Homo sapiens: one gene and its partners. The protein of the gene in region 1 interacts with the protein of each later gene in a pairwise test. Each region holds a gene or a part of one and is shown on either strand. Other genes may lie near its edges.

Region 1 (7,027 bases):
ATCTTGGCTCACTGCAGCCTCCACCTCCCAGGCTTAAGTGATCCTCCTGCCTCAGCCTCCACAGAAGCTAGGACCACAGGTGCGCACCACCACACCCAGCTAATTTTTTTCATTTTTTGTAGAGTTGAGGTCTCACTGTGTTGCCCAGGCTGGTGTCAAACTCTTGAACACAAGCGAAACTCTCGCCTCAGCTTCCCAAAGTGCTGGGAAGATAGGAGTGAACCACCACACCTAGCCAGGCTTTCTTCTCAGAGACTAGATCCCTCCACCACCTTTGTTACTATAAGAACTAGCACCCCCTAAACATCCAGGCAACATTTATTGAGCCCAGGCCAGGCACTGTGGCTCACACTTGTAATCCCAGCACTTTGGGAGGCCAAGGTGGGTGGATCACTTGAGGTCAGGAGTTCGAGACCAGACTGGCCAACATGGTAAAACCCTGTCTCTACTAAAAATACAAAAATTAGGCCAGGTGCAGTGGCTCATGCCTGTAATCCCAGCACTTGGAGAGGCCAAGGTGAGCGGATCACATGAGGTCAGGAGTTCAAGATCAGCCTGGCCAACATGACGAAACTCCGTCTCTACTAAAAATACAAAAATTAGCTGGGCATGGTCGTGCATGCCTGTAATCCCAGCTACTTGGGAGGCTGAGGCTGGAGAATCGCTTGAACCCAGGAGGCAGAGGTTGCAGTGAGCCGAGATCGCACCATTGCACTCCAGCCTGGGCAACAAGAGCAAAATTCCATCTCAAAAAAAAAAAAAAAAAAAACAATAAAAGAAAATAAAACACATTTATTGAACCCCTGTAGTGTTAGTCATCATACTGGACACCAAACCAAGTAGCCCTAAGAAACACGCAAGATGGGCCCTCTTAGTCCCAATCATATAAATAGCAGCTGACACCAGGCGTCTATATAGGAAGTGCTCAATAAATGATTGCTACATAAATACAGGACTTGGACGGGTGCGGTGGCTCACACCTGTAATCCCAGCACTTTGGGAGGCCAAGGTGGGCAGATCATTTGAGGCCAGGAGTTCAAGACCAGCCTGGCCAACATGGTGAAACCCCGTCTGTACTAAATATACAAAAATTAGCCAGATGTGGTGGCGGGTGCCTGTAGTCCAATCTACTGGGGAGGCTGAGGCAGGAGAATCGCTTGAATCCAGGAGGCGGAGGTTGCCGTGAGCCAAGATACAGCCACTGCACTCCAGCCTGGGTGACAGTGAGACTATGTCTCAAAAATAAATAAATAAACAAATAAATGAATACAGGACTTGGCAAAGCCACTCCATGGCTCTTTTCATCACTTCCTCAAAGCCAGACATTCTCTAGCAACAAGGTCTGGTGAAACTGATGCAAAGCATCAGTCCCCTCTTTAGAAACCAGTCTCCACAAGTCCACTGGCTACGGGGAGGGGTCTTTCCTTAGCAGCACGGCTTGGTGCAGTCAGGTGGGGCACAGGGAAGCCTGGAACATGGCAAGCCCATGCCCAGGACCCTATTAGCTACATGGCCAGGTAACTCACCGTATTAGTTACATGTGGCAATGTCTAGTGGGATCCAGGGAGGCCCAGACACCTCCAACCCACCCTGGGGGCTGGCCTCCTCGGTGTTCCTTGTTGCAAAGGGGGCTGACACTCCAAGCCATGAGGACTGACTGGTAAGTCCCAGGCTGACCTGGTAGGGCCCGCGACAGATTCTCTCAGGGCCAGAGGCCTTTGCTGGGACACCACAGGATTTGTGAGCACTTTTGATTTTGCTGTGAGAACTCACCCAGAACTTGACCAGGAAGAAGGCATGGGGGGGGCCACGATCATATAGCTCTCGGAGGCCACCCTTTTTCTCAGGGAATTTGTCGTAGATCTGCCGGACGTCCACACTCTCGAGCGGCGGCGCTCCGGGGCTGGGGCAGTGCTGGCTGATGTGCACGAACAGGTGCCTCTGGTACTGAGGAGGGTTGGCCGTGGGTGAGAAGTCGGAGGTGAGCTGGATCTCCAGCCTGTGCTGCCTGAGCCCACCAAATGCCGTCACCATCCCCACAGCTCTGGCCAGCTGTTCCACACAGTCCACCCAGCACTGGGCCTGACTGCCACCCATCGTCCCCACTCCTGCTTCTGCACCCAGTCCCCTGCAGCCCTGCAGTCCTACAGTCCCCAACTCCCTGCCACAACTCCCCCAACTCCATCCTCACTGCCTCAGCCTCACCTCAGGCCTCCCACCCTCACCCCAGCCTCCAACCTCGCCTCTCCAGTTCATCCCTCATGTGGCTCCAGACCTGCCCCTGACCCTCCCCTGGTCATGGCCCTCCCATAGCTCCCCAGCAGCCCCAGGGCAAAGCTCACACCCCCTAGGCCTGGTCCTATATAGAACAGGTGCTCATAAATGGTCAATGGATGGAAGAGTGAATGAATGGGAATCCACAGAGGTCTTGTGGTTGATGTTTTGATTGATGTTTATATGGTGTGGCAGAGACTGCTACGTGTTCACAAATCCTGGTTCCTTTACACAGTGTGAAACTACATTTCCCAGGCCGCTTTGCAGTTAGGTGTGACCACATGACTAAGTTCTGGCCAATGGGATGTGACCAGGCCTGAGAGTCGACACATCCAAGTCAGATTCCTAAAACCTCCTGCACAATCTTGACTCTCTCCCTTCCTCCATCTGCTGGCCAGATGCAGAGACTCCATCAGCAGATTCTGAAGCCTTAGAAAATGGCAGAGCCACAAAATGGAAGGAGCCTGGATCCCCAAATCACTTGAGTCCAAGGCTCCTGCTGAACCTACATTGAAATGTTACATGCAACTTATCTGGCATTCAGTCCCTAAGAGTTAGGAGCTGTTTCTTCTAACAGTCGGCCCACTCCATCCTAGCCCAGGAGAAGCTCAAGCACAGAAATAAAATCTTTTCCAAGTTCCTAGTATGCATCACAAAGCCTAGTGAACAGTAGAAACTCAAACACGTTTGATAAATGAATGAATGATGTCCTGGGGAGCTTTTCTGACCTTCCCAACTTGTCACCCTATGACCTTCCAGTTCCTTTATGCTAGTAGTTCTCAAAGTACGGTCCCCAGACCAGCTGCATCAACGCACCTGGTAGCTTATTAGAAATGCAAATTCTCAAGCCCCACATCACATCTAGCAAATCAGAAAGCAATCTCTGTTTTAAGAAGCCCTTCAGATGATTCTGATACATGCTAAAGTTTTAAAACCATGACTTTATACATTCCCTTCCTGTCACCCTCTATATTTCAAAATCCCTCAGCGACTGTACCAAAATTTCACTCACAGAATCAACTGCATCTGGCGGTTCCACGAAGGCTGAGAACTCTACCAGCTGCAACCGGGCGGTGCCCAGGCCCCGAGCCTGCCAGGCTGGGGGCGATGGGGTAGGTGGGGGCAGGGGTGAGAGGGCTTGGGGGGGCTCGTACCCTAGAGAGAGAGAAGAAAGAACAATACAAATTGCTAACATTTATGGAATATATCAGGTACTGTTGTCTCTTGCCTGCCTCCACTTAGAAGCTGAAAAAGCTAAATACTCACTTTCCCAGCCTCCCTTGCAGTTAGAAGTGGCCATGTGACACAGTCCTAGCCAATGAGACGTTAGGGGAAATCTGCTGGGGGGCTTCTGGGAAGGAGTTTCTTCCTGAATGAAAAAGACAGAACTTTGGGAGGAGAAAGCTTTTGGCCCTGGCCAAGTCCTGCTTGGGAGATTGATATGGTTTGGATATTTGTCCCCTCCAAATCTCATGTTGAAATGTGATCCCCAGCTGGGCACGGTGGCTCACACCTGTAATCCCAGCACTTTGGGAGGCCAACGCAGGTGGATCACAAGGTCAGGAGATTGAGACCGTCCTGGCTAACATGGTGAAACCCTGTCTCTACTAAAAATACAAAATATTAGCTGGGCATGGTGGCACGTGCCTGTAATCCCAGCTACTTAGGAGGCTGAGGCAGGAGAATGGCTTGAACCCAGGAGGCGGGGGTTGCAGTGAGCCGAGATTGCGCCACTGCACTCCAGACTGGGGGACAGAGCGAGACTCTGTCTCAAAAAAAAAAAAAAAAGTGTGATCCCCAAGGTTGGAGGTGGGGCCTGATGGGAAGTGCTTGGGTCATGGGGGTGGATCCCTCATGAATGTCTTGGTGCCTTCCCCATAGTAACAAGTGAATTCTCACTCTTTGAGTTGATGTGAGCTGGCTGTTTAAAGGAGCCTGGCTTCGCTCTCTTGCTCCCTCTCACCATGTGACATAGTGGCTCCCCTTCCCCTTCCACCATGGTCCTAAGCTTCCTGAGGCCCTCACCAGAAGCATAGGCTGGCAACATGCTTCCTGTACAGCCTGCAGAACTGTGAACCAAATAAACCTCTTTTCTTTATAAATCACCCAGTTTCAGGCATTCCTTTACAGCAATGCAAATGGACCAACACAGACATGATCCCTGGAGTTGCAACAGCCATCTTGGGACAATAAGACAGACATGAGAGGAACTACAGAGATTCCAGTCCTGATATTGCTAAGCCCACACGGGAACAGCCCACCTCCAGGCTTTTTGTTGCATGGATTCATAACATGAATGCTTTTACTATTTAAGGCACTTTTAATGTGGGTCTTCTGTTACTTGCAGCCAAAAGTATTCCTAATTGATAAATCTATGGAAACTAAGGGACTCCCTCTTTCACTGATGTGAGTTCTCAGGGCCATATCAGCATGGACTTCCAGAAGCCATCTTTGCTGCCAAGTAGCTGAGTCTGCCTGGGAATGAAGCCACCACAGTGGAAAGCAGATCAAAGTAATGACTGATGCCATCACTTGAGCCGCTGGATCCAGCCACGCCTGAGGCCATAATTCTGAACTGTCAGTTACTGGAACCAATAAATCAATACATTTTTCTTATTATTTTTTATTTTATTTATTTATTTATTTTGAGACAGAGTCTTGCTCTGTCGCCCAGTCTGGAGTGCAACGGTGCCACCTCGGCTCACTGCAACCTCTGCCTCCCAGGTTCAAGTGATTCTCCTGCCTCAGCCTCCCGAGTAGCTGGGATTACAGGCAAGTGCTACTGCTACCACGCCTGGCTAATTTTTGTATTTTTTAGTAGAGGTTGGGGGGGGTGGTTTCGCCATGTTGGCCAGGTTGGTCTCGAACTCCTGACCTCAGGTGATCCACCCGCCTAGGCCTCCCAAAGTGCTGGGATTACAGCTGTGAGCCACCGCACCTGCCTCTTCTTTTTTAAAATGTTGCTTCAGCTGGCTTGATTTGGATTTCTATCACTTGCAGCTGAAAGAATCTTGACTAACATACCTCCCCCATGTCTCATAAGCTAGCAAGTGGCAGAACACAAACCCAGTGTGTGGCTGCAAAGACCAAAATCTCCTAACCATCACCAGTTCCACCACTCAGCTCTCCAGCCCCTCCCGGCTCCCCCGCCCCCAACACACACACCCTGCCTCAAAGCTGGGCTTCAGTAAGAATGTATCCCCTAATTGGCCGGGTGCGGTGGCTCACACCTGTAATCCCAGCACTTTGGAAAGCCGAGGCAGGCGGATCACAATATCAAAAGATCGAGACCATCCTGGTCAACATGGTGAAACCCGATCTCTACTAAAAATACAAAAATTAGCCCGGCATGGTGGCGGGCACCTGTAATCCCAGCCACTCGGGAGGCTGAGGCAGGAGAATCACTTGAACCCAGGAGGCGGAGGTTGCAGTGAGCCGAGATCACGCCACTGCACTCCAGCCTGGCGACAGAGGGAGACTCCATCTCAAAACAAAACAAAATAAAACAAAAAAAACAATGTATCCCTCAATTGATGGAAGGTTGAAGGAAAGGCAGTAGGGGTCGAAGAGAGAGAGGGGAGACAAGGGAGGGTGGAGCGCAGGCTCTTACCTGGGAGGTCAGTAGATGGGGGAGTCAGTGACAAGGTGAACGGTGTCTGTGAGAATGGCTTCACACTGAGGGAAAAAGGAAGCCAGGGGTTAGCCAGGTAGAAAGATGCTAATGTCACCAGCAAATGTTTACTGAGAGGCCACAACAAGCAAGACCCTGTGCATTTTGTGCACAATCTCACTGAAGCCTCACAGTGCGTGAGGTAGGTAGAATGACTGCTCTTTTCATTGCACAAATGAGGACAACTGAGGTATAGAGGGGTCAACTGACCTGCCCAAAGTCACACAGTTGAGATGCAGCAGAGCTGGGACTTGAACCCAGGTCAGTCTCAGCCCGGTATCTCAGGCTCTTGATGATGACATTTTGGTATCTCTCACAAAATGTCAGAAAGAGAAGAGAAACCAGCCTGGCGTGGTGGCTCACACCTGTAATCCCAGCACTTCAGGAGGTTGAGGCGGGCAGATCACTTGAGGTCAGGAGTTCGAGACCAGCCTGGCCAACATGGTGAAATCCCATCTCTACTAAAAATACAAAAATTAGCAGAGTGTGGTGGTGCGCGCCTGTAATCCGAGCTATTCAGGGGGCTGGGCCAGGAGAACTGCTTGAACCCGGGAGGCAGATGTTGCAGTGAGCCGAGATTACGCCATTATACTCCTGGGTGACAGAGCAAGACTCCATTTCAAAAAAAAAATAAAAAGAAAGAGGAGAGAAGAGAAACCAAGTCTTGGAAGGCAGGGAGAAGACGCAGAAGACAAGGAATTTGGAGGAAGAAGAGGCTGAGGGGTTGGGAGGGTGGGAAGAAAATGACCAACACTCAGGAGATGGGACAGGAGGCCAAAGTCGGGGTGGGGAGGCAGCACTGGCCAATAGAACTTTCCAGGGATGGAAATGTTCTATTGGATGGAAATCTGTGCCATCCAATACGGTACCCAGTGCCCACATGTGGCTACTGACCACAGACCACGTGGCCACTGAGCACAAGTGTGGCTCATGGACCTGAGAAACAGAATCTTTAATTTTATTTAATTTTAATTTAAATAGCTGCATGAGGCTAGTGGCTACAGTATCAGTCACAGCCCTAGTAGCCCAAGAGATAGTGGTGAAGAGACTTAGATGTCAGAGGTCAGACCAGGCGCAGTCGCT
Region 2 (7,027 bases), on another chromosome or scaffold:
CACAGTTTCAACAGACCCCATCAGACACGGACACCAGGCAGTGCCACTTGGAGGGAAGCCCCGGTGAGGCCACAGGGACACAGAGGCTCTTGCAGCTGAATGCACAGAGCCCGGAGGCACCCCCTCGGGGCACGGCACCATCCTCTCTGTCAGTCTTAGCAAATGCTGACTACTGACTAAGGACCTATTAGGTCGCAGTCCCTGGAGATTCGGAGAGCTCAAGCAGTAATTTTGAGCCTCCTCAATGCTGCTGCCTTCTCCCATATATTTCCCCAGGAACCCCATTTTTAAAAAGATTTGTTTCTACCAAGCAAGCTGTGTTTATTAAGCAATCATTTAATTTCCTATTTTCCTTTCATAGAAAAAAATCCCTATGTACCAATCATAGGCTTCTGACCAGCATGGGCTCACAACCCTGTGACCATCAACTGTGCAGGACCCCAGCCCAAGGCAAAGCAACCTGACATTTCCCTTCATCCGCGTGACCGTCTAAAGGAGAAACGTAGGACCCCCCCACCCGAGGATGACTACATTCATCCTAAGAGAATCAGGCCTGCCACAGAAGACTGCTGGAGGAAACACCTCAGTACACCACCCCTGTACTGGGAGAGGAAAGAGATGAAGCCCCAGTGACATTCACCTTGCCCAAGGCCGTGAGTGCTAAGAGGCAAGGCCCGGGCAGGTCTGGGCAGGAAGTAAAAGCAGAAGAGGACTCCTGTTCTGCTGTCCCTTGTCCCAAGTGCACAACAGAGGCGAAGGGTGGCATCCCTCACCACCTCCCTCCCTCACCACCTCCCTCCCTCACCACCGCCCTCGGAGTCCTCTGCTCGGGGCTCTCCATCCAGCCCAGTCCCCCAGCCCCTGGACTCCCCACGCCACCCTCCCAGACAGAGGCCCACCTGCTGCCGCTCCCCCGGGGTCAGTGTGGGCGAGAGGCCGGCTGGCCTGCTGGCGTCCAGGCTGTTCTTGGTCAGTGCGAGGGGCTGCTCCAGGCCAAGGCTGGGGAGGGAGGTGTACAGGTGGCTGCCGTGCAGGCTCATGGTGGGGGCCACAGCGCGCTCGATGGGGCTGCGGCTCCGCTCCCGGGGGTCTCTGCGGCAGTCTCCATTGGCAGTCTTGTTCCTGAAAAAGAGGAATGGGCATTCAGGGGGCGTTTTCTCAAAGGCAAAGGGGACAGTGACTGTGCGCCAGGCACTCCGTGTTGCTTATTTAATTTTTTACCCTGAAGCTCAGGTCGTGTGGCTGGGCAGCACGATGAGGAGCCGGTTGCCAGCCCGGGTCAGCCGGACACCAAAGCCTCTGGGTGCCGGAGAAGCTGCTGCCAGCGGAGTCCAAAGTCAGCTCCATAGAAGATGGAGCCCCCGACTCAGTGGCGTCCTCTGCCTGACTCTGTGTTCACTTCTATAATAATCTCCACTCCCTGGGAGCCTGGGGAGCTGGAGGCCAAGCTGGTTCGATAAGGACCTGCCATTTGGACAGGACGGGGACGCTGACAACGATCCAGAGTCACTGGCTGCGTCCTACATGCAGGGCCCTATTCAAAGCCTCCACAGCACTGCTCAGCCCATCTTCCTCACAGTACTGCTCAGCCCGTCTTCCTAACAGCACTAAGCAGGCAATGCTGCCACCATCCCCTTTCCAGACCAGAACCCCAAGACTCAAGAGTGGTGGAATAATCAGCTCAGACTCCCAGCTGACATGTGGTGGCACGTGCTCTGGGGTTCCCGGGGTGCTGTAGGGAGCCGGCGCGCAGCTCTCTCGTCCAGGACACACGAGCAGGAGTGACCTGCGTCCAGAAGGTCCATCACTAGCCCTGGCCATGTGCTGAGCACCCAGGCGATGCCACGTGGAATCCAGGTGAGACAGTCAGCACCACCTCCATCTGATGTGTTAGTCTGAAGGCAGCGTTACGTGTTGCATCTATTAGACACCAACCCCACACAGGTAAGCCATGGCCAGCCCTGGTCCACCCTCCCTGCTTTATTCCAGGGGTCCCACAGTTCCATCTGCCTTGGGTCTTGCCCCTTCAATCCACCATATTATCCGCTGACAGAGTAACCTTTTTCCGTAACTCATGAGCTGGTCATTTAAAGAAAAAGGTGGTGAATTATGATTTGAGTGAATTTTAAGAAATACAAATTATTTTCAGAGTCTACAAGTAGTCACCTGTCTTAACTAGCAGAAAAGCCTAGGCCTGCCCTGGTGAAGCAGCAGCCACAGCCCCCGTCCCGGACTGGCTGAATATGTTACACACACAATGAATGTTACACACACAATGTTACGCATGCACACAGAATGTTACACACACACTGAATGTTACACACACGCACACCACACACACACACGCATGTGATAGGCGTACCTTTCTAAAACTGTAGATTAACTTCAGTTGTAAGAAACAACACACGGCCATCCCATGCACCCTTTACCTTGACTCCCGCGATGGTGACATCTTGTAAAACTACAGTACAATATCACAACCAGGATATCGACAATGAGACAACTACCAACCTTATTCAGATTTCGTGTTTTGCTTGTATCCATTCCAGAGCAATCTCTTTATAAGGCAAATCCAACCACATCCAGCCCTTAGTGAATGTTTTTAGCAGCTCAGCACGGGCCTTGGTAGCCTCTGGGCCTGACCACCTTCCCGTCCTCATCTCTGGCTTCACGCCTCCAAATGTTGTGTTCCGTAGTTCCAACCATCTACTTGCCATTCCTCAAATAAGATGCGGCCACTCTCTGCCTCTGTGGCTGTGTACACGCGGTGCCGCTCTAGCCTCCCTCCTCCCCGTCCTGCGCTGCCAACCACAGCTGCAGTGTAGAATCCCAAGGCGCCCCGTGCAAACCTTTAATACAGAATCCATCCCCCACCGTCAATGATCTCTTCGTCTACGCACCCGCCCCTCCTCACACACGGCAGCCTCTGAGGGCGTCGAGTCCCTCCTGTCTCATTACGCTTGCTACCAGGGGTGCACAGAGACTTAACGGGTGAATGAAGAGAAGCAGCATATGGGTGACCGTGTAAGAAAGGCAGGTATCGTGGAGTGGAACTGTGGGTGGGCAGAATCATGGAGAGCTGGAGGGCTGAGGAGTCAACTGGAGGCGCATTCAAGCCTTTAGATGGACCCTGCGGCCCAGTCGGTGAGCTGCTAAGGGCTGAGCAGGAGAAGCACCAGAGGGGGCCTGAGTGCAGCCTCGGCTGTGATGTTGTGATGTCATTCTGCGCCATCTCCAGCAGGGGCACGCGCTCAGCTTAGTGACCCGAGGCGTTCCGAGCCTCGGCGTCCCCATGTAACCATGTGGTCACAGTAAGATCCACCCAGAGGACTCTAAATGGGGGACAAACAGCACACAAACAAAAACAATCAGAGCGGCGCAGTGCAGCCCTCAGTGAGCGCCAAGAGAACCCTGTCAGCCCTAAACCGAGTATATTGATTATAGGGTGATTAGCTGTACAGGACCCAGTATTCGTTTATGGGGTTTTTTTCTTCCCCTTTATTTTCTGGCTGATGATACAGAATATCTTAAAAGCAATTAAGGATTAAATGTTCAGCCCATTAAGACAATCATGGAAGAGAATGTTCTGGCAGAGTCTAGATAGTAGGTTCCATCCACGCCACACACATCCTGGCGATTTTCAAAACGTTAAAATACTAAAAACCTTAATACTGAAACCAGCCTGTCCATAATGTCATCTGTCTGTGGCGATTCAGAAGACAGCACAGGTTTCTGCAATGAATGCCTCAAGGGTTATGATCCCAGACACCGATGTCACCAGAAGACCTTCCGCGGAACGGACGTCAGGCCAAGCAGTCCTGAGATCTGCTGGCTTCTACCTAAACGGGACTTGGTTCCTGAATACTCAGTTCATCAGTGTCACCACACATCCTCATCTTCAGTGTCCCGCTCCCTTCTAAATTCAGATAAAGATACAATTTTATTGTTAACAACATGAGTGAATGGCTTCTCTCCACCCCAGGTGATGCTTCCACGGGCCACTTCATGAAGTGCATAGACCTGGGGGCTCATGTCCCAGATTCAGGAGAGCCTCAGACACAGTCTGCCTCCGAATTTAGACGTCTGTTTACTCAACCAGCGCTAGTTAAGTCCCTGTTCTGTGGAGGTTCCAGAACTGCAGGGTTACAGCCCTGCCTTCTCATGGGCTTACAATCTAGCAGGGACAGAAAGGCCCGGGAGGGGCTGCAGCTCCCAAGTGACAGCTCTGGATCCGGGCAAGGATAAAGACACCCCCGGGTGGCATGGAGGAGCAGACTAAAGGTCAGGCGTCTGCCCATGTCCAAAGCCAAAGTCGTGGTACATAAGGCACTGCCCACCCCTCGCACCTTATGTCCTAGGGGCACGGCACAGTCACGCAGATGACTCAGCTGCGCCTTAGGAAATCCAAGCATGACTATGAGACCACATCACAGAGGAAAGGGGTGCCAGGGCCGCCAGCTGCCAGGGCAGAGGTAAGGACGGGGCAGCCCTGCACCTAAATCTGCCATCTATGCTCCCACAGCCCCACTGTGCGCCCACCCTACGCAGGGCAGCAGGGAGAAGGGGACTTCCAGGCCCACTAACTGGAAAGACAGTCCGTGGAACACAGCACAGTGGGCACTATGGGTCAGACAAAGACACTGAAAACAGCGAGAAAAGGCCTGGAGAACTGGCTGGTTAATTTTAGTAAAATTATACATTACTCACATTTCCAGCTCATTTTCCTGGTTCCCGGAGCTTCAAGACAGACATTGTTTTCCAGGCCCCGCTCGCCCGGATGAATCACCTCCCGGCCACTGCTTCCCAGGCGTCATGTGCTCCCGGGGACGGCAGAAAACCGCACGCATCCTGCCCGGGAGATGGAAGTCGCCTCCGCTCCTGGTCAGGACTGTGCCCGAGAGAGCCCACGGCATCCCCGCGAACACCCAAAGGACTCTGAGTGGCTCCGTGCCAGGCCTATCAGAGCCGCTGAGGCTGCACGGCACCCGGCCCCGCCCCGGGCCTCATCCCCATCCTAGGCGGGCACTTCCACTGCCAGCTGCCCACGGAGAGAAAGATGGAAAGAGGAGGGAGGGAAAGAGAGGCCTACAACACCATCATCCAGGACAGAGCTTTCTGAGTACTGAAAGCCACACGCTCTCTAAGCTAAGAAACCAAGAATGTCCATAACATCTGGGGAAAAGTAAACCAGATTCCAAGCAGTGACATTGAAAGAATCCATCACGTGAAAGAAGTGCACTGCGTCTATTTGATACTCATTAAAATGAGTTTCCCACCCTCCAACAAACGTGCTTTGGGATGCTTAGCCCTTAGCCCCATCACCTGACGTTCTGAGCCTGCGCTGGGCTTCATTCACCGTGGACTGCCACAAGCTACACTGATCTGAGTCTGAGTTCCTCTGCCTGGGGAGGGGGTATGGGTACAAGACATTTTGAGGATACATTCTGGGGTCCCCAAAGGCCCCTGAGCACCATGGCATGGCAGGTGCTCCCACCCAGTGAAAGAGATGAGGCCCAGGGCAGCCTTGGGCCCTGGCCTCCCAAAAACCAACATCCTGAGGCGGCAAAGCAGCCCGTCCCCATGCCAGGCGTTGCCTGGCAGGAGTAGAATGAAGGCTATGCAGAGACATCCCCCAAGCACCAGAGTCCAGGTGGAGACAAGAGATTCAAAGGAGGAGGGGCCGGCACAGGGCCAGTGAGTGGGCCGGGACACAGCCCCATCTCCAGCCCTTTCGTCCTCTCTCTCCCACCGCAGCAGTTACAGGAGAATCCGACATCTGAGAACTGGCAGGACAGCCAGTCGTTCACACAGTCTTAACACATCATAATGAGACTGCTGGCTGGGCATGGTGACGTGCACCTGTGGTCCCAGCTACTTGGAGGCTGAAGTGGGAGGATCACCTGGGCCCAGGAGGTGGAGGCTACAGTGAGCCATGGTCACGCCACTGCACTTTAGCCTGGGTGACAGAGCAAGACCCTGTCTTTAAATAAATAAGATTGCTAGCACATCTTTAATCTTAAAAAGCTTCCTCAGAAAACAGACTTAATGCCACTGAAGGGTGCCCTGAAACCTGGTTAAAGTGGTCAGCTGTATGCTCTGCTAATTTACTACAGCTTTTTAAATAATAAAATTTTACCTGAATAATATAGACAGAACTTCCTCCCAACCTTTACCTGCTGCCCCCTGGGGTTTCTGATGTGCACAGGGCAGGTCAGCACCATCCCAGTTTTACAGAAGAGATGACCAAGGTGGAGAAGATGAAGGCTTTGCCTAGACATGCTGCCCACCACAGACACCGGCCCTGTGGCATCAGCCGCTCAGGGTCGTCACACCAGGCCCACCAAGAGACTCTCCATCACCTCGCAGCTCCATCCCAAGCTGCCAGGAGGCCTTTCCGACCCACCAGCACCATTTCCACCCACCTTCCTGCCCCAACTGCAGAGACACAGGAAAGGAGCAGTGCGGAGATGCCGGCCACCAAGGTCTGTCCCCGGACAGTCCTGCCACGCTGGCTTTCTCAGTCAGTAAGCTTCTGAAGCACAGCTCCCAGGGGACCCCGGTCCCTGGCTGGACCGTGCACTCCCGGGAAGGCTGACACTGCAGCCCCCACGCCCTAATCTCCTTGGCTCCGCACGGGTGACCACATACCAGATGTTCTAATAACTGTCCATAGAGTAAATAAATCATTAAGGTACACATAGTATGTGTGAGTCCAGTTAACAGCGTTTGTGGCAAATGACAAGGGAGTTAAGGAGATTTCAGAGAAAATGACTGGTGGCAAAGACTTTTTTCTGAAAAAGCAAAATTTAAGGAACATTTAAATGTTGGGCATAAACAGTGGTGAGATGTCTTCTCCCTTTTAGTCCCTTCCTCCAACTTCTGTTGTCCTCCTCACCTCCTCCCTGCTTCTAAATGTCCCCGAGCTCATCCAAAGCACCCCACAACACACACACAGGAGTGAACTCATCACCGTGGCTTCTCTCCCCTTGTGAGTGGGAGAATTCACTGCTTCCCAGTGAGCAACAAG
Region 3 (7,027 bases), on another chromosome or scaffold:
TCTCGCTCTGTCGCCCAGGCTAGAGTGCAGTGGCGCGATCTCGGCTCACTGCAACTTCCGCCTCCCGGGTTCACGCCATTCTTCTGCCTCAGCCTCCTGAGTAGTTGGGACTACAGCCGCCACCACGCCAGGCTAATTTTTTATATTTTTAGTAGAGACAGAGTTTCACCGTGTTAGCCAGGATGGTCGCGATCTCCTGACCTCATGATCCGCCCGCCTCGGCCTCCCAACGTGCTGGGATTACAGGCGTGAGCCACCGCGCCGGCCTATTATTATTTTTTAAAACAAGCATTAAAACATGCTTCAGTGCTCTTTCATATGCAAAGAAGCAACCCTGGGAGCCTGCGCCTTTTCCAGGCCCTCATGCCTTCAGAAGCCAGAGTGTGCTAGGAGCACCGGGGGTGAGGACATAGCTTCAGCCTGAAGCTGTTCACTGGAGGTATCTTCCTAGTGTGTGCAGTGGGCCTTACTCAGTTTCCCAACCCTCCATCTCAGAGAAAGACAAAACCAATTGGATATGGTGTATGTACTTGTCAAACTGTTTATTTGCCATTCACACTGATTGTAACACTGGATTTACAGAAGAAACTGTGGTACAAAGAGAGGAAGGCTCTGGTGGCTCCTGAACAGCAGCAGTCCAGCTGCCCTGCTCAGGCTGGGCACGACGAATGCTCCCAGGAGAGGGGAGGCGGCCCACCCGACTGTGTACCGTGGACTGTGGACAGTGCAGTGCCTGCTCTCCTGTGCTATCTAGAAACACCTTGGAGAGAGGGTTCTGGGATATTCTCTCATGTCATCTGGCTGAAGACACCAGCTTGACAGTTCCCCTTTAAGAAGCATTCCATACGTTTGTACCAGGGAGAAAGAAGCCCACGCACGAATTTTCAGGATGTTTTGTGACCAAACCCAATAACTGCCACACAAATAGACCCTAGGTGGGGGCTGGCTTAAATAGGACCACATTTCCCGTTGCTTTTTCAGTAGATGTGTTATACCGTCATTTCAATTTGAAAGTTTATTTTTTTCCATTGATTTTTATACATCCAGAATAACACAAATAACCAACAGTTCTTTTTCTTTTTTTGCACATTCATTTCCCCTAGAACAAAAAAAGTGAACTTAAAAAAAATTGGAACCATGCTATTAGCTGTTTACAAAAGTGAATAAGAAGTAGCTCATTTTAAAGTCTAAAATAAACAAAGTAGAAAGAAGCATTTTTTTCCCTACAGTATTTAGCAAACCTAAGAAAAAGTCCTTAGAAACACACACAAAAAAATTGAAAAAAAGTTATAGGCATTAACAATATTTTATAATGAAGCTTAAAATCTATTTACATACATAAATACAATTAACTTTGTTGATGCAACTCTTCTGGAAGGAAAAAAAGAGCCAAATGATCAGCCTCATCAATACTGACCTGGCTAAAAACAAAATTCCCAACAAACACACAAAAATCCCAAAACAAATGTATACGCTACGGTAAACAAAAAGGCATTTTGTTCAGATGTAAAATATGTTTTGTGAGATTATTGTCAAACAAATTTTCATGTATAAAAGACCCAAACATGTCATTCCCCCCAAAAATAAAAACCAACAAAAATAAAAATCATCAGGACGGAATGTCCCAAAGAAACAGGTATTTCAAGGCAGAAATCTGCAATCCTAAATTGCAGGACATTTGAGTGGAACCATTCATTTCCTTTCTAATCAGAGCATTTCTGTTTATCTGCACAGAAACCCAAGGCAGCAGAAAGGCTGTCTATTTACTCACTGATTGTGATTTGCCCAGGAAAGTTTGCTGGTTTGGACAGCAAGCAGATCCAATATGGTTGGCAATGTCTCTGTTCTGCTGGAAGAAACCCATAAACAGGAGAAAGGCTGACAAACCATGTTCCTTTATGTGAAGGGGGAAGAACTGGACCTTCTTGTGTTCTGAAATTTGGTACTGGGTGGGGGTATGTGCTATCTGCTTAAGAGAACACAGGAAAAGGAGGAGGGAGAAAGTGGGGTTTGGAAGATAGAGGAAGAGAGAAAAAAAGGGAGATATTGGGGGGAAGAGAGGGAGGGAAATGTATTTTCAGATAGTGAGAAAAAGAAAGAACTGAAATATGTATCCATGTTGAAATCATAAATAGGGACATGAGTAAGCAGTAGAAATGGCTTATTCAATACTTCTCCTGGACCAGACACATGCAGTTATTACATGATTGGCTTAAGGGTCTCATTGATACCTTAACTTTCCTGAGGGCAATGAATAAAAAGATACCTTAATCTACCTGAAGTCAATGAATGCAATTTTTCACACACACACACACACACGCACACACACACACATACAAAAATGTGTTGCGTGAGACCTATCGCCAAAACAACTACAGTTTGATTTTTTTTGAAACAATTAAATACTATATATGCTGGTAAGAGTCTGTGAAACTCTAAATGACCAATCCAGTGAGCCTACAATAGTGACAAGCCCCCTCCACACATGGCTTTGAGAGTAAAGGTTCAATGTAAAAGATTATCTAATCAGAGCATGAGGCTGGTTTTGAGTTGGAATATCTTCAGTTAACAGAATTAAACTGAAAAACATAATTTTTTCCTTCATTTTTCTCCAGCATTTTTGCAGGTCAGACATGGTAACATGTGCTGAAAAAAAACATTTACGTTTAATTTGGGGGAAATGGGCTAATGGTGCTTTTCAGAAATTAAATTTTTACATTTGCTGACATTTTATGGTAATTTAGCTGCAAAAATGTAATACGGAATAATATATGAAACTGAGTTGTGGAGGGAATCCTGTCAAAAATGAAAGTGAATATATTCTGAGTTTGTCCGAGATCTGCTATAGCTCTTCTCTAGATAAGAACGACCTGACAACATAAGCTGCTTTACTCTTTAACTCTTACCAAAGTGCTACTGCATGTGTGTAAAACAAATAATCAATATATATATAAGAAAACTCAAAAACAAGTTGTTTTAAATAAGTCCAGCTGTTTTTGCTGCCTGCAGCCAAAGATTTGCCTAATTTGAATGCTTAAATTTATAAAATAAAAATCAAACACTGTTCTGAAGTCCTGCTTTCAAATACTCTTCAGAGTTGACCTGAAATCGTTTCAACGAATTTTAAGAGGTACGTTAAATAACCACCAGATCATTTGGAGCACACATGTGTCAAAATCAGCAGTTAGTATTTATGAGTTGTACAACAACTGCATTCTGACCAAATCCTCCAATAAAAATAGTGCCATAAAATTTACAGCGACATTGGATACCTTTGAATTGTAGCCACGGACAGTAGTGACATGAATCTTTCCTGTCACACTGGTGCACAGGTAAAAGCCCATATACCCCATAGGGTAGGGTCTCAGCCTGGTGAAAGCAACACAAAGATGTTGTTGAGTGAGCAGCACAGGACAGGGGGTCTCGCACAGGTGGGACCATGTTTTCCCACTTGTCTCCACTGAGGCACACAGAGGCAAATTGACTCCTCGAGGCCTGCTTCTGGTGGGCCCTTAAATTGCTATAATCGTAACCCCTAAATTCATTGATTTGGTTCCTATGTAAATGTGGCTCCCCTACACAGTTTACTTTGGCTGTGTTCTGTTACACAGCATCTGTGAAATTATCAGATGACCTTGGGGTGAGCAAATCCCTGGGCAGAAATCAAATCCTCTCCAAAGATGTAATTATTGGCACCTGCCTCAACCCTCTGGAACTAGATTGACCTTCTCTGTTTTAAGGAGGAAGTTAGATATGAGACCCTTGTTGAGCCTGGCAGAAAATTCCATACTTCTGATCCTTGGAGTGACCCTCAGTGTCTAAAAATCCTATTAAAAACGTTGCTGCGTGAGCTACTCACTTGTTTGATTAACATGAAAGGGAGTTTAATGTAAACAATACTTCTGGATAACCAAGCGATCACATTACTCATTCTTTTTTTCTAGCCTTCTTCAATGTGATACATTTAACTTTGGCTACTATCAAGAACAAAAGAAAATGTAGTACTTGATATTTTTCTTAATATAAGTACATTTAAATAATTAAAAAATTATCAACACATAAATGTCTGAACATCAAGATACATAAATATCTGGGGATTCCTTGTGGGAATACAGTAGTTAAAAATGACCCAAAGCTGTAGCTGTTTCTCAAAAAAACAAAACAAAACAAAAAAAAACAACTACCCAAAAGTCCAAAAGAAAAGTTAAATAAAACTTAAAGAAAAGGGAATCATATTTCTTTCCATGGTCAAAGCAAGAAAGAAGCAAGCTCAATTTATATATATTTATATAAACGTATATAAAAATAAAAACCACCCAAATGCAAATACGCATTTTGCAATTGATAAGGTGCGGAAAAATTAAAAATAAGAATTAGATGCCAAACAGGGCGAGTTGCATCCCTCCTCTCCCCCCACCCCAACCAAAATTCCACACTCTTTGGAATAAACAACTTGGTTAAAAAGTTAAGTCAAGGGTATAAAATCTTTCTTTTTATTCACAGCATTGCTAAATCAGAAGCATTCACAGTTTCCCTCCGGGAATCTTCCTGTTTGCTTTCCAGCGCGTCCCCTGGGTGCTGGGGCCGGCGGACACCCTCGAGGTGCGTCGCCTCGGACACCTCCGCGAGGGCCGGGGCGCCAGCAGACGGCGGCGGCGTGGGCTTCTGGGCGCAGGAGGCTGCGCGGGCCTGACCTACAGCGAGATCCTGGCCGTCGGGCGCCCTCGGCCCCAGGACGGTGGCCGGGCCCAGGGCCCGGGATCCCGGCGGGCTTGTCGCGAACAGGAGGCCCGCGCGCCCGGAGGCGAAGGCGGCGGCCCGCGGGGCCCAGCCGGGCCAGGCCTGGCGCCTCAGTAGGGCCTCCACACGGCCTCCTCCAGGCGCGCGGAGGGCGCCATGTTGGTGGGGGAGTTGCTGTGGCTGCCCTCGGCCTCCACCACGTCGCTCTGGTTCGGGAGGCTGGGGTTGAGCAGCGCGGAGCCGGTGGAGGCGTTGGTGCAGGGCGGCAGGATGCGCGGCGGCGAGCGCTCGCCGCCCACCATGGAGAACTGGTAGGAGCCGGCCGAGGCGCCGTAGTACAGGTGGTAGGAGGGCGAGCTGGCTTGGAACGGGCCTCCCTGCGCTTGCGACGAGCCGGGGTAGGGCGGCGGCAGGTAGGTGTGGTAGCGCGTGGCCGAGCCCATGGCCGACATGCCGATGCCGATGCCCGAGGTGACCGGCGTCGGGGAGTAGGTGAAGGCGCCTGGATAGTGCATGCGGGGGTCGGAGATGGAGGGCAGCGCGGGGAACTGGCGCGGGTCGCTGAACGCTGTCAGGTCGGGTGCCGCTGCAGGGCGGGCAAGAGAACGGAGCGGAAGTGAGTAGGAGGTTGCGGAGGCCACAGCTCTTCCCTCTGCCCCAGGGGGCTACCCAGGATGATACCGCCTAGGAGGATGGGAAGCCACCCAGGATGCTACTGCTGGGGAGGACGGGGACCACCCGGGATGCTACTCCCAAGAGGACGAGGATTACCCAGGATGCTATACCCAGGGGGACAGGGACCACCCAGGATGCCACCTCCTGAGATGACGAGGATCACCCAGCATGTCACCTCCCAAGAGGATGGGGACTACCCATGATGCTATGCCCAGGAGGTCGGGGACCACTCAGGATGCCACCTCCTGAGAGGACGGAGACCACCCAGGATGACACCACCTGGGAGGATGGAGACCACCCAGGATGCTACCGCCTAGGAGGACGGGGGACACCCAGGATGCTACTGTCCAGGGAGATGGGTTTCTATCAGAATTTACCGCCCAGGAAGATTGGAACCACACAGGATTGCTACCACCTGGGAGGATGGGGGCTACTGAGGATGCTGCTGCCTAGGGAGAGGGTTTCTACCCAGAATCTGCCACCCAAAAAGATGAGGTCACCCAGGATGCTATGCCCAGGAGGACGGGGATCAGGAGGCTGCTACTGCCCAGGAGGATGGTATAATATACAGTAATATAATACGGTAATATAGAATATCATGTAATGTAATATGACATGATATATGAAATGATGTAGTATAGCATAATATGTATAGTATAGATATAATGTGCAATAGTATATACTATAATATGTATAACGTATATAAAATGTTGATATAATCCTAGGGTTGGCAAACTGCAGCCTGCCAGCCAAATCTGGCATTTTTGCATGTCCCAGGAGGTAAGAATGCATTTTACATTTTTTAAATGGTTGAAAAAAAAATCCAAAAAAGAATACTTCCTGACCTGTTAAAATGACAGGAAATTCAAACTTCAGTGTCCATCCATACTTCGGAACACATCCTCACTCATTCTTTCATGTACTGCCTGTGGTTGCTTTAGAGCCACTACTGTAAAGTCAGGTGGTCAGTATAGGGACTGCAGGAGCCACAGAGCAAATATTTATTCTTTTTTTTTTTTTTGGAGACAAAGTCTCGCTCTGTCACCAAGGCTGGAGTGCAGTGGTGTGATCTCGGCTCACTGCACCCACCACCTCCTGGGCTCAAGCAATTCTACTGCCTCAGCCTCCCGAGTAGCTGGGATTACAGGCGCCCGCCACCAGGCCTGGCCAATTTTTGTATTTTTAGTGGAGATGAGATTTCACCACGTTGGCTAGGCAGGTCTCGAATTCCTGACCTCAAGTGATCCACCTGCCTCAGCCTCCCAAAGTGCTGGGATTACAGGCATGAACCACCGTGCCCAGCCCTAAAATATTTATTCTCTGGCCCCTTACAGAAAAAAGTTTGCTGACCCTCTATTTGATCAATATATTAATATACCAATAATATAAATTAATCTGTGATATTAATATAGCAGATGATAATTTGACACTAATGTAAAGGATGCACAAATATGTTACTACTAACACAATATGTTATACATAATATATATCCTAACAATATTAATATATAATAATACATTACACATAGTATTTAGGTTGAATGATAGAAAATTGCCATTTTTATAGGCCTTCGACAGTTGAAAAATTGATAATTTCCTAGTATTTAAGCGAA

The links.
Region 2: the proteins of TEAD2 (region 1) and VGLL4 interact in binary tests that used the Homo sapiens proteins (3 or more experiments, as listed by UniProt).
Region 3: the proteins of TEAD2 (region 1) and RUNX1 interact in binary tests that used the Homo sapiens proteins (3 or more experiments, as listed by UniProt).

Annotation. Positions count from the first base shown.
Region 1 is NC_000019.10:49,345,417-49,352,443, forward strand, and holds part of TEAD2 (transcriptional enhancer factor TEF-4), read right to left. Parts: intron 5,950-7,027; coding exon 5,885-5,949; intron 3,644-5,884; coding exon of another isoform or gene 3,541-3,643; intron 3,430-3,540; coding exon 3,287-3,429; intron 1,948-3,286; coding exon 1,774-1,947; intron 1-1,773. UniProt on the Homo sapiens protein: Transcription factor which plays a key role in the Hippo signaling pathway, a pathway involved in organ size control and tumor suppression by restricting proliferation and promoting apoptosis.
Region 2 is NC_000003.12:11,563,898-11,570,924, forward strand, and holds part of VGLL4 (transcription cofactor vestigial-like protein 4), read right to left. Parts: intron 4,902-7,027; exon of another isoform or gene 4,710-4,901; coding exon of another isoform or gene 4,708-4,709; intron 1,945-4,707; exon of another isoform or gene 1,123-1,944; coding exon 900-1,122; exon of another isoform or gene 389-899; coding exon of another isoform or gene 362-388; intron 1-361. UniProt on the Homo sapiens protein: May act as a specific coactivator for the mammalian TEFs.
Region 3 is NC_000021.9:34,787,285-34,794,311, forward strand, and holds the end of RUNX1 (runt-related transcription factor 1), read right to left. Parts: intron 5,327-7,027; coding exon 4,851-5,326; 3' UTR 517-4,850; downstream 1-516.